3 linked regions of the Homo sapiens genome follow. The protein of the gene in region 1 purifies or fractionates together with the protein of each later gene. This does not show direct contact. Each region holds a gene or a part of one and is shown in the gene's direction. Other genes may lie near its edges.

Region 1 (3,650 bases):
TATCTGATGTTTAGGGAACTCTTAAATGGATAGGTGCTTTGTTCTACCTTTCTATATCTTCATAGTGAGGTATGTAAGAAAAAGGCATTGGGCTAAAAGTAGAGCTAGAGTCTTGTTGTATGTTGCCATTAATCAGTGATGTTACCTTGGACAAGTCATTTAGCATGCCTGGCCTCAATTTCCTGTATGATCTCTAACATCTTTTCTGAAACCATGACTATGGCTGTATATAGGAAATGTTGACTTGACTATCTTACGGAACAGATTCTGCATGGTTTTAGAGGTAAATGTTTGGGAATAATTTGCAGCTAACGTGTATCCCAGGAGTTCACCATTTAGTGCAATTCACAATCAGAATTTCTTTTAACAAATCATATTCATTGAAAATGATAGTCACCATCTGGACAGTTCTGGAGGCTACAGCTAAACTGCTTTGAAGATGTTTTCTCTTCTTAATAATATTCTGTTGTGTTTATCCTTTGCCAAGGTTCTGTGACTCCCCGACCAGTGACCTGGAAATGCGCAATGGCCGGGGTAGAGGCAAACGCATGCGTCCCAACAGTAATACACCTGTCAATGAGACAGCCACAGCCTCTGACAGCAAAGGGACCAGTAACAGCAGCAAAACCCGGGCAGGAGCCAATAGCAAAGGCCGTCGGGGCAGCCAGAATTCTTCAGAGCACCGCCCACCTGCCAGCAGCACTTCTGAGGATGTCAAGGCCAGCCCTTCCTCAGCTAATAAGCGGAAAAACAAACCCCTTTCAGACATGGAGCTGAATTCTAGCTCAGAGGACTCCAAAGGGAGCAAGCGTGTCCGTACTAATTCCATGGGCTCAGCCACTGGCCCCCTTCCTGGGACAAAGGTAGAACCCACTGTTCTGGACAGAAACTGCCCCTCCCCCGTCCTAATTGACTGTCCCCACCCAAACTGCAACAAGAAGTACAAGCACATCAATGGACTTAAGTACCACCAAGCTCATGCCCATACAGATGATGACAGCAAGCCGGAAGCGGATGGGGACAGTGAGTACGGAGAGGAACCTATTCTCCATGCAGATCTTGGGAGCTGCAACGGTGCATCTGTCTCACAAAAAGGTTCCTTGTCCCCTGCCCGCTCAGCTACCCCCAAAGTTCGACTTGTAGAGCCCCATAGCCCTTCTCCTTCAAGCAAATTCAGCACAAAAGGCCTCTGTAAGAAAAAGTTGAGTGGGGAAGGGGACACAGACCTTGGGGCCTTATCCAATGATGGCTCTGATGATGGACCCTCAGTGATGGATGAAACAAGCAATGATGCCTTTGATTCTTTAGAAAGGAAGTGTATGGAAAAAGAAAAATGTAAAAAACCCTCTAGTTTAAAACCTGAAAAGATTCCTTCCAAGAGCCTAAAGTCAGCCCGTCCCATTGCCCCTGCCATCCCCCCACAGCAAATCTACACCTTCCAGACAGCCACCTTCACAGCAGCGAGCCCAGGCTCTTCCTCAGGCTTGACCGCCACAGTGGCACAAGCCATGCCCAACAGTCCCCAACTCAAGCCCATTCAGCCCAAGCCCACTGTTATGGGAGAACCTTTCACAGTCAACCCTGCCTTGACTCCAGCCAAGGACAAGAAAAAGAAAGACAAAAAAAAGAAGGAATCTTCAAAGGAACTTGAAAGTCCTCTGACCCCTGGGAAGGTGTGTCGAGCAGAGGAAGGCAAAAGCCCATTCAGGGAATCTTCAGGAGATGGGATGAAAATGGAGGGGCTCCTAAATGGCTCATCAGACCCCCACCAAAGCCGACTGGCTAGCATCAAGGCTGAAGCCGACAAGATCTACAGTTTCACGGACAATGCCCCCAGCCCTTCCATTGGAGGCAGTAGCCGCCTTGAAAACACTACCCCTACTCAGCCCCTGACTCCCTTACATGTGGTGACCCAGAATGGAGCTGAAGCCAGCTCAGTCAAAACCAACAGCCCTGCATACTCTGACATCTCTGATGCTGGGGAGGATGGGGAGGGCAAGGTAGACAGTGTCAAATCAAAGGACGCCGAACAGTTGGTTAAAGAAGGGGCTAAGAAAACTCTTTTTCCCCCTCAGCCTCAGAGCAAAGACTCACCATATTACCAAGGCTTTGAGAGTTACTATTCTCCAAGTTATGCACAGTCCAGCCCTGGGGCTCTGAACCCCAGCAGCCAGGCAGGAGTGGAGAGCCAGGCCCTGAAGACAAAAAGGGATGAGGAACCTGAGAGCATAGAAGGGAAAGTGAAGAACGATATCTGTGAAGAAAAGAAGCCCGAGCTGAGCAGTTCCAGTCAGCAGCCCTCGGTCATCCAGCAGCGTCCCAATATGTACATGCAGTCCCTGTACTACAACCAGTATGCCTATGTACCCCCCTATGGCTACAGCGACCAGAGTTACCACACCCACCTTCTGAGCACTAACACGGCTTACCGGCAGCAGTACGAAGAACAGCAGAAACGCCAGAGCTTAGAGCAGCAGCAGCGGGGAGTGGACAAGAAGGCAGAGATGGGCCTGAAGGAGCGGGAGGCAGCACTCAAGGAAGAGTGGAAGCAAAAGCCGTCAATTCCACCAACTCTCACCAAGGCCCCCAGCCTGACAGACCTGGTGAAATCAGGACCTGGCAAGGCCAAGGAGCCAGGGGCTGACCCAGCCAAATCAGTCATCATTCCCAAGTTAGATGACTCTTCAAAACTCCCGGGCCAGGCCCCTGAAGGCCTTAAAGTGAAGCTGAGTGATGCCAGCCACCTAAGCAAGGAGGCCTCTGAGGCCAAGACAGGTGCTGAGTGTGGTCGACAGGCAGAGATGGATCCAATACTCTGGTACCGACAGGTAACTGTTGCCCTGGGAGGAAGTGGAAATACCGTATGGTAATCGTCTATCTTCCTCACAAATAAGGGCTGTCCTTATACAGGGGTTCAACGGAATTGAGATTAGCAGGAGAGATGTATAATTTTAAGGATTCTTTACCTTTGTAAACTATTTTAATGTTTTTTATTTTATTTTAGTATTATTATTTTTTTTGAGATGGAGTCTCACTCTGTTGCCCAGGCTAGAGTGCAGTGGTGCAATCTTGGCTCACTACAACCTCCGCCTCCCAGGTTCAAGCAATTCTCCTGCCTCAGCCTCCCGAGTAGCTGAGATTACAGGCACACGCCACCATGCCCAGCTAATTTTTTTTGTATTTTTAGTAGAGATGGGGCTTCACCATCTTGGTCAGGCTGGTCTGGAACTCCTGACCTCAAGTAATCCACCTGCCTCAGCCTCCCAGAGTGCTGGGATTACAGGCATGAGCCACTGCACCCAGCCAATTTTTATTTTATTTTATTTATTTATTTATTTATTTTGAGATGGAGTCTGGCACTGTCACCCAGGCTGGAATGCACTGGCGCAATCTCAGCTCACTGCAACCTCTGCCTCCCAGGTTCACACGATTCTCCTGCCTCAGCCTCCCGAGTAGCTGGGATTACAGGTGCACGCCACCACACCTGGCTAATTTTTTGTATTTTTAGTAGAGACGGGGTTTCACCATGTTAGCCAGGATGGTCTTGATCTCCTGACCTTGTGATCCACCCACCTCGGCCTCCCAAAGTACCTGGATTAAGGCGTGAGCCACTGCGCCCAGTCGTAATTTTTTTTATTTTTATGTTTTTA
Region 2 (3,650 bases), on another chromosome or scaffold:
TTTCCTTTTATAATCTCTGTCTCCAAATATAGACCCTGAAAGTGAGAATTTGGCATGCTGTAAGAACTCTTTTAGGCCAGTGTGGCCAGAATATAATAGCAGTAGGGGTATAAGTGGGAGGTAGGGAGAAGTTGGCAAGGGTTACCTCGTGAAGGAATTTGATTCTAAGAGTGGTAAGAAGTCACTGAAGGATCTTAAACTAGAGATTCAATTTATACTTTAAAAAGATCATTTTGGATTTTTTGTTGAGTATATTATAGTGCAGGAGTAGAACTTACAAGACCAGCTGCAGGCTGCCACTGCAATGGACTGAGATGGGCCAGAAATCGTGATATCTTGTATAGGGCAGGAACAGTACAAATGGAGAAATATAGATGACTTTGAGATGTATTTCATAGGTAGAGTGAATAGGTTAATAGGATCTGCTATGGTGAATTGGAAGGAAGAGCAAGAACCAGGGTTAAAGGGAAAGGTAAAATTAGGATGACAGATTTCTGGCTTGAGCAGTTGGGTGGTGCCATGAGTTAGGGAAGACTGGAGGAGGATAGGTTTGTGATGGTGAAATCAAGAGTTCTCTTTTAGCTACACATATCCAAGTACTAGCTCAATGTCTGGCCTGGAGAAGATAATCAGCTCTTTTGCCCACCACCAAATCTAGCTGCACATGATTTCATTTCATTTCATAATGATGTAATTATTTCAGTCATTGGAAATGGATGCAGTAAGGTCACTGAAGTCAAAAAGTTAACATAAAGTTTGGCAGGTAGCCACTAGACCAGTTTGTTTGGCATAGTATTTGGGGTGACAAAGTTGGTGCAATGTATCATAAAGTGGGGAAGGACCCTTGGGGCACTAGGATTTGTTTCTTACTTTCTTTTTTTTTTTTTTTGAGACGGAGTCTCTGTTGCCCAGGCTGGAGCGCAATGGCGCAATCTTGGCTCACTGCAACCTCTGCCTCCTGGGTTCAAGCAATTCTCCTGCCTCAGCCTCCCAAGTAGCTGGGATTATAGGCACCCGCCACCATGCCTGGCTAATATTTTTAGTAGAGACGGAGTTTCACCATGTTGGTCAGGCTCGTCTTGAACTCATGACTTTAAGCAATCCACCTGCCTCGGCCTCCCAAAGTGCTGGGATTACAGGCGTGAGCCACTATGCCCAGCTAGATCTCATTTTAAAATATGAAAGACCTTTAGATGTTCATTTATATTTGTTTCTGTTCTAGGCTCTGTACAAAATGAGCTAAGTAGCTAAGGTATGTGCATTCCAGGTCATCTGTCTTAGATAATCATACAGAAAGGAAATCATAGACTTTACAGTATATATTAAATAACTACCAGTTGACTTGCTAATGAAAGGGAAAGTTTGTATGAATTTAAAACTCTAGACCAGCACTGTTTAACAGAACTCTCTGTAATAATAGGAATGTTCTATACCTGGGATGTCCAGTGTGGTAACTGCCGCCACGTGTATCTGTTGAATGCTTGAAATGTGGCTAACGTCACTACGGAACTGAATTTTTTATTTTTTTATTTTTTTGAGACGGAGTCTTGCTCTGTCACCCAGGCTGGAGTGCAGTGGTGCAATCTTGGCTCATGGTAACCTCCGCCTCCCGGATTCAAGCAATTCTCCTGCTGCAGTCTCCCAAGTAGCTGGGACTATAGGTGCACGCTGCCACACCCAGCTAATTTTTTGTGTTTAGTAGAGACGAGGTTTCACCATGTTGCCCAGGCTGGTTGCAAACTCCTGAGCTCAGGCAATCCGCATGCCTCTGCCTCCCAGAGTGCTGGGATTACCGGCATGAGCCACCATGTCCGGCCTTTTTTTTTTTTTTTGAGACAGAGTCTCGCTCTGTTGCCCAGGCTGGGGTGCAGTGGTGTGATCTCGGCTCACTGCAACCTCCGTCTCCCGGGTTCACGCCATTCTCCTGCCTCAGCCTCCTGAGTAGCTGGGACTACAGGCACGTGCCACCACACCCTAATTTTTGTTTTTTTTAAGTAGAGATGGGGTTTTACCATGTTGGCCAAGCTGGTCTCGAACTCGTGACCTAAGGTGATCCACCCGCCTTGGCCTCCCAAAATGTTGGGTTTACAGGCGCGAGCCACTACGCCCAGCCTGAATATTTAATTCTATTTAAATTTTTTTTTTTTGGGCCGAGGTCTCTGTCACCCAGACTGAAGTACAGTGGTGCAATTTTGGCTCACTGCAACGTCCGCCTCCCAGGCTCAGTTGATCTCCCACCTCAGCCTCCCATGTAGCTGGGACCACAAGCTAATTTCTGTATTTTCAGTAGAGACGGGGTTTCACCATGTTGCCCACACTGTTGAACTTGTGGGCTCAAGTGTTCTGCCCACCTTGGCCTCCCAAAGTGCTGGGATTACAAGCCTGAGCCCTTGTGAGCCCTTGTGCCCAGTAATTTTTTTTTTTTTTTTTTTTTTGAGATGGAGTCTCGCTCTGTCTCCCAGTCTGGAGTGCAGTGGCGCAATCTCGGCTCACTGCAAGCTCCGCCTCCTGGGTTCACACCGTTCTCCTTCCTCAGTGTCCTGAGTAGCTGGGACTACAGATGCCTGCTACCATGGCTGGCTAAATTTTTGTATTTTTAGTAGAGACGGGGTTTCTCCATGTTAGCCAGGATAGTCTCGATCTGACCTCGTGATCCACCTGCCTCAATTTAAGTAGTCGTGTGTGGCTTATACCTACTGTATTGAACAGTATCTAGGCAATCAACTTGTTAGCCACTTTTCTCCATTTGTACTGTTCTTGTCCCTAAACGAGCTCTCATGATTTCTGGCCCATCTCAGTCAACTGCAGTGGCTGCCTAGCTGGTCTTCTAAATTCCACTCCTGAGCTGTAGCCTACTAAACAAAAATTGAAAGTGATCTTTTAAAAATATTAGCTTGAGCCAAATCAACTTGCTTATGGAATATATTGTCCTTTTTTTTGAGACTGGGTCTTGCCGTGTCACCCAGACTGGAGTGCAGTGGCATGATCAGAGCTGACTGTAGCCTCAACCTCCTGGGCTCAAGCAAGCCATCCTCCCACTTCAGTTTCTGGGACTGCAGGCGCATACCACCATGCCTGGCTAATTTTTGTGTTTGTTTTAGAGACGGGGTTTTGCCATATTGCCAAACTGGTCTTGAACTTCTGGGCTTAAACAATCCTCCTTCAGCCTTCCAAAGTACTGGGATTACAAGTATGAATCACTGTGCCTGGCTATATTTGTCATTTATTTATTTATTTTTTGAGACCAGCTCACTCCTGGGCTTAAGTGATCCTCCTGCTTCAGCCTCCCAAGTGCTGGGATTACAGGTGTGAATCACTGTGTCTGGCTGTATTTGTCATTTATTTATTTATTTTTGAGACCAGGTCTTGCTCTGTCACCCAGGCTGGAGTGCAGTGATGCAATCATGGCTCACTGCAGCCTTGACTTCCCGGGTTCCAGCAGTCCTCCCACCTTAGCCTCCTTAGTAGCTGGGATCACAGGTGTGTGCCACATGCCCAGCTAATTTTTGTATTTTTGGTAGAGACAGGGTTTCCTCATGTTGCCCAGGCTGGTCTTGAACTCCTGAGTTCAAGCAATCCACCTGCCTCGGCTTCCCAAAGTGGTGGTATTACAGGTGTGAGCCAGTGCACCTGGCCCATATTTATCTTAA
Region 3 (4,141 bases), on another chromosome or scaffold:
AAATCTGGGTAAAGAATATATCTCTTTTTACTATTCCTACAAATTTTCTGTGTCTAAAATTATTTCAAAATAAAATGAAAGAAAAAATAAAATGACATTTTTGAATAATTAAAAAAGAGAGTGTAAGGATTCTTGAGATTAAAATCTCAAGTTTAAAGGGTCTTGAGATTACAATTTAAAAAGTTTGAGCTCCTAAACTTATGTGATCTGCCCACCTTGGCCTCCTGTAATCCCAGCTACTAGGGAGGCTGAGGCACAAGAATCACTTGAACCTGGGAGGTGGAGGTTGCAATGAGCCGAGACTGAGCCACTGCACTCCAACCTGGGAGACAGAGCAAGATTGTGTCAAAAATCAAAACAAAAAAAAACCCCAGCAACGCTTGAGACCTGCTCCTGCAAGTATTTAACTCACAGAAAAGGAGATAGCACCAGGTAAAAATGAAGTAAAAGCTGTGTAAGCTGTGTGTTGGGCCTTGCAGAACAGGAAGCCTGAGAAAGGAGAGGTTATTTAGAATGCAGCCTCTCTTGGGGAAAACGTATATTCCAGCGATCCTCTCTACAATGGGACTTCATTCACCCTCCAAATCCTTTTTTGGAAGTTTGTGTCTTAGCTTTCCTCTGTTGTGACTTTTACTGCTCCTTCTGCTCTCGATACAGACACCATAAAATTTACCGTTCATCCAAGAACACTTTTGAGAGTAAAAAATGGAATTATTAATAATTACAGGACAATAGCCTTGCCTAGCTGCCATCTTTCTTATCCTGTCCAGTAAGTACCCCTAAGAGTAGAATTGTTGAGTCAAAGGACATGAAAACTGTTGTAGATCCTGTCCGCTCATGATTCTATCAGGAATAGGAACACCAATGATTACATTAGCCACGAGGTGATTAGGTTTCAGCAGTGCATTTCTGTATTTGATCTCCAACACATTTTGCTTTTTAAAGTTGAGTTCTGAAATTAGAGACAAGAGCAGATGGCAGTAGATTCACTCTAATTCAGGGAGTTATTAAGAAATTTTGAATTTTTTTACTATATAATTTGAAGCCTGCTTTAATGTCATCATCATAAACGGAAGGGTGGGTTGATGAGTTTACTCAGATTAGAGTGGTACAACCTTTGGGGCGGAGCCTCTGACTCTGATTGGTTGGACAATGTTTTCCAGGCAGTATAAAAACGCTGGTGTCTCTCCGCGGAAACTCCGAGAGGAGCAGAGGTCTGTAGAGGTAGAGACGTAGGCTTCGGATCTTTTAGAATTCTGCTGGAAGTCTCCAAGTCAAGGTAAGTTATACCTTCTGTTTAAGCTATTTCCAATGTCCTATTCTGTCTTTGGCTACAAACTGGTGTTTTCGAATGCCTTTAACTATTTATTTTAGAGGAGAAAGAACTAGTTTTTTCCTGTGCCAGGGAGCTTTCTTCACCTTTAACTATAACTTTGCCATTTAAATTTTTACATATGAACCTCAGGTCACTCTTTGCATGAACTTGTATTTTTATGTGTTTTCAACTACAATGGATTTAAATGGTTTTAAAATGGTTTCTTTTTATTTTCCAACATTTCTTAAAAGATTTCTGGGTTTTCGGCCGGGCGCCATGGTTCGCGCCTGCGCTTTGGGAGGCTGAGGTGGGTGGATCACGAGGTCAAGAGACCAGCCTGTCCAACATGGTGAAACCCCGTCTCTACTAAAAATACAAAACTTAGCCGGACGTGGTGGCACATGCTTGTAATCCCAGCTACTCAGGAGACCGAGGCAGGAGAATTGCTTGAACCCGGGAGGCAGAGGTTGCAGTGAGCCGAGATGGAGCCACTGCACCCCCAGCCTGGGCGACAGAGCAAGACTCCGTCTCAAAAAAAAAAAAAGACTTCACTTCGGGTTTTCACTTAAATATACTTGGCCACTTTTAGTAGTTGTGTCATAATTAGCTGAATCATTTTATTATTGTTAGATAATTCGATTGTTCCTGATCATTTGGGATGGTAGTTAACACTGAAATGAACAACTTGTGAATAAGTGTAGCATTTTTTTTCTTTTGTAAAATTGTTTTCTTAGATACATTCCAAGGTGGGTTAGGCAATTAGATTTCCAGCACCATGTTAAATTTCCCATTAAATTGAAAAAGATAACAGAATTTAAGAAAGAGGTAATCTCTGGTTGTCCGCCAGCCAGGCACCATGAGATTGGAATGCTGATCAGGACTTGGAAGACAAAGTTTTATGTGGGCAGATACCCTGTTTATTACACACGTTTGTGTTTCCAGAGTCCAGTTGAGGCCAAGAGCACAGAAGGGGCTCAATAAGTATTTGTTGGAAAGAGATTAGAGAATGTGTTCTGGGATGTAGGACAGTTCTAGTAACTCAGTCTTAGGCTGGCCTCATCGGTGTTCATCACTTCCTCTCTCTGGTAATGTTGATGCTGCTCCTCTTTCTGTCCCTCATTCTGTTACTACTGTCACCACTGAATGTGTGATTTGTGGGTTCTTGGTAAGGAGTTCTGCTAGTTACTGCTCAGTGCAGGCTCTTATTGGAGAACAGTCCTCTGTTCACATAATCTCAAAGGTGCTGTCCAGCTTTGCGAGGCTGTCTTTGGGTCATGGGTCTAGCCTGGTCCAATATGCTGTGCCCAGCATGTCAGAGACAGCTCACTCAAAGAATAATAGCCATGGTGGGAAGTCCTCTGGGAGCACCAGAGGCTCTCAAGCTTTGGGAGCAGTTGGGGTAACAGGAGGGCATCTTCCTTGTCTGGAACATCTTTTTGGTTTGTATTCAGGCATGATTATTTTGGAGAAGTTGATGACTATTATATTTTTATTCACATTAATTCAAGCCTTAATTAGTTTTCTTAGAGTGCTTTAAAGCATTTCATCTAATAACACTTTGTCCTTAAACTTGATTCTTTTATGGGCTTCTCATTTTGCAGTGGATTTTGCTGGCTTTACTCACATGTGGTAATTTTCCTGGAAATTCTGAGGATTCCTTAGAGTCACTTTTCTGTGATGATTAATGTAGAATTGGCTTTATTTTCATTATTGAATTTAGACATGAACATTCTTTTTCCTGAACTGCAGAGGATCTACAAAGAAATACTGAGTGGAGACTATACTGAGATTCTGTTAAAGACCCACTTGAATTCAGCCCCCATTAGGAGAAACTTTGGCCGGAGCAGCCAACACATCACCTGGAAGTCTTCAGACTAGGTAAGCTGCACTGTCTGAAAAGAAAGTTTCCACTGTCCTATTTCTGTCTTGTGATTATCTAGAGTTTGAAGAGTTTCGAAATCATTTTTATCACCATGACTACATTACTGTGATTCTCTAGCAATTTAGTGTCACTTTCATACACAAACTGCAGAAATATTATTTTTTTGTTATTCTTAATTTCTTAGTTAATAAATTTATTATTATTTATTAAATAATATAATTCATTTATGTATGCCAATAACTTATTTATTAATTTATATTATTTAATCTTGGATTTAGACTATTGAAGAGTGGATTGTGTACTGAGGGCTCCCAAGTGCTTCCAGAAGCCAATAAAGGATCACTTCAGTTTACTTCACGGCTAAGGAGTAACCCTTAAGAACCATGGCCAAACGCCTGCAAGCAGAGTTGTCCTGTCCAGTTTGCCTGGATTTTTTCTCCTGTTCCATTTCTCTCTCTTGTACACACGTGTTCTGCTTTGATTGCATCCAGAGGTATATACTAGAAAACCATGATTTTAGAGCGATGTGCCCCTTGTGTCGAGACGTGGTGAAGGTACCTGCTTTGGAAGAATGGCAAGTGAGCGTCCTAACACTTATGACCAAGCAGCACAATAGCCGACTTGAGCAAAGTCTGCACGTGAGGGAGGAGCTCCGGCATTTTCGGGAGGATGTGACCCTGGATGCAGCCACTGCCAGCTCCCTCCTTGTCTTCTCCAATGATCTAAGAAGCGCTCAGTGTAAGAAGATCCACCACGATCTGACAAAAGATCCCAGGCTGGCCTGTGTCCTGGGTACTCCCTGCTTCTCCTCCGGCCAACATTACTGGGAGGTTGAAGTGGGAGAGGTGAAGTCATGGTCCCTGGGCGTCTGCAAGGAGCCGGCTGACAGAAAGAGCAATGATTTATTCCCTGAGCATGGCTTCTGGATCAGCATGAAGGCAGGA

The links.
Region 2: the proteins of ZNF609 (region 1) and KANSL3 purify together in Homo sapiens (affinity purification with mass spectrometry, with the first as the bait; one large-scale study listed by BioGRID). This does not show direct contact.
Region 3: the proteins of ZNF609 (region 1) and RFPL4B purify together in Homo sapiens (co-immunoprecipitation; one large-scale study listed by IntAct). This does not show direct contact.

What each region holds. Positions count from the first base shown.
Region 1 is NC_000015.10:64,673,429-64,677,078, forward strand, and holds part of ZNF609 (zinc finger protein 609), read left to right. Parts: intron 1-487; coding exon 488-2,828; intron 2,829-3,650. UniProt on the Homo sapiens protein: Transcription factor, which activates RAG1, and possibly RAG2, transcription. Through the regulation of RAG1/2 expression, may regulate thymocyte maturation.
Region 2 is NC_000002.12:96,631,751-96,635,400, reverse strand, and holds part of KANSL3 (KAT8 regulatory NSL complex subunit 3), read left to right. Parts: intron 1-3,650. UniProt on the Homo sapiens protein: Non-catalytic component of the NSL histone acetyltransferase complex, a multiprotein complex that mediates histone H4 acetylation at 'Lys-5'- and 'Lys-8' (H4K5ac and H4K8ac) at transcription start sites and promotes transcription initiation.
Region 3 is NC_000006.12:112,346,129-112,350,269, forward strand, and holds the start of RFPL4B (ret finger protein-like 4B), read left to right. Parts: upstream 1-1,201; 5' UTR 1,202-1,279; intron 1,280-3,064; 5' UTR 3,065-3,193; intron 3,194-3,475; 5' UTR 3,476-3,580; coding exon 3,581-4,141.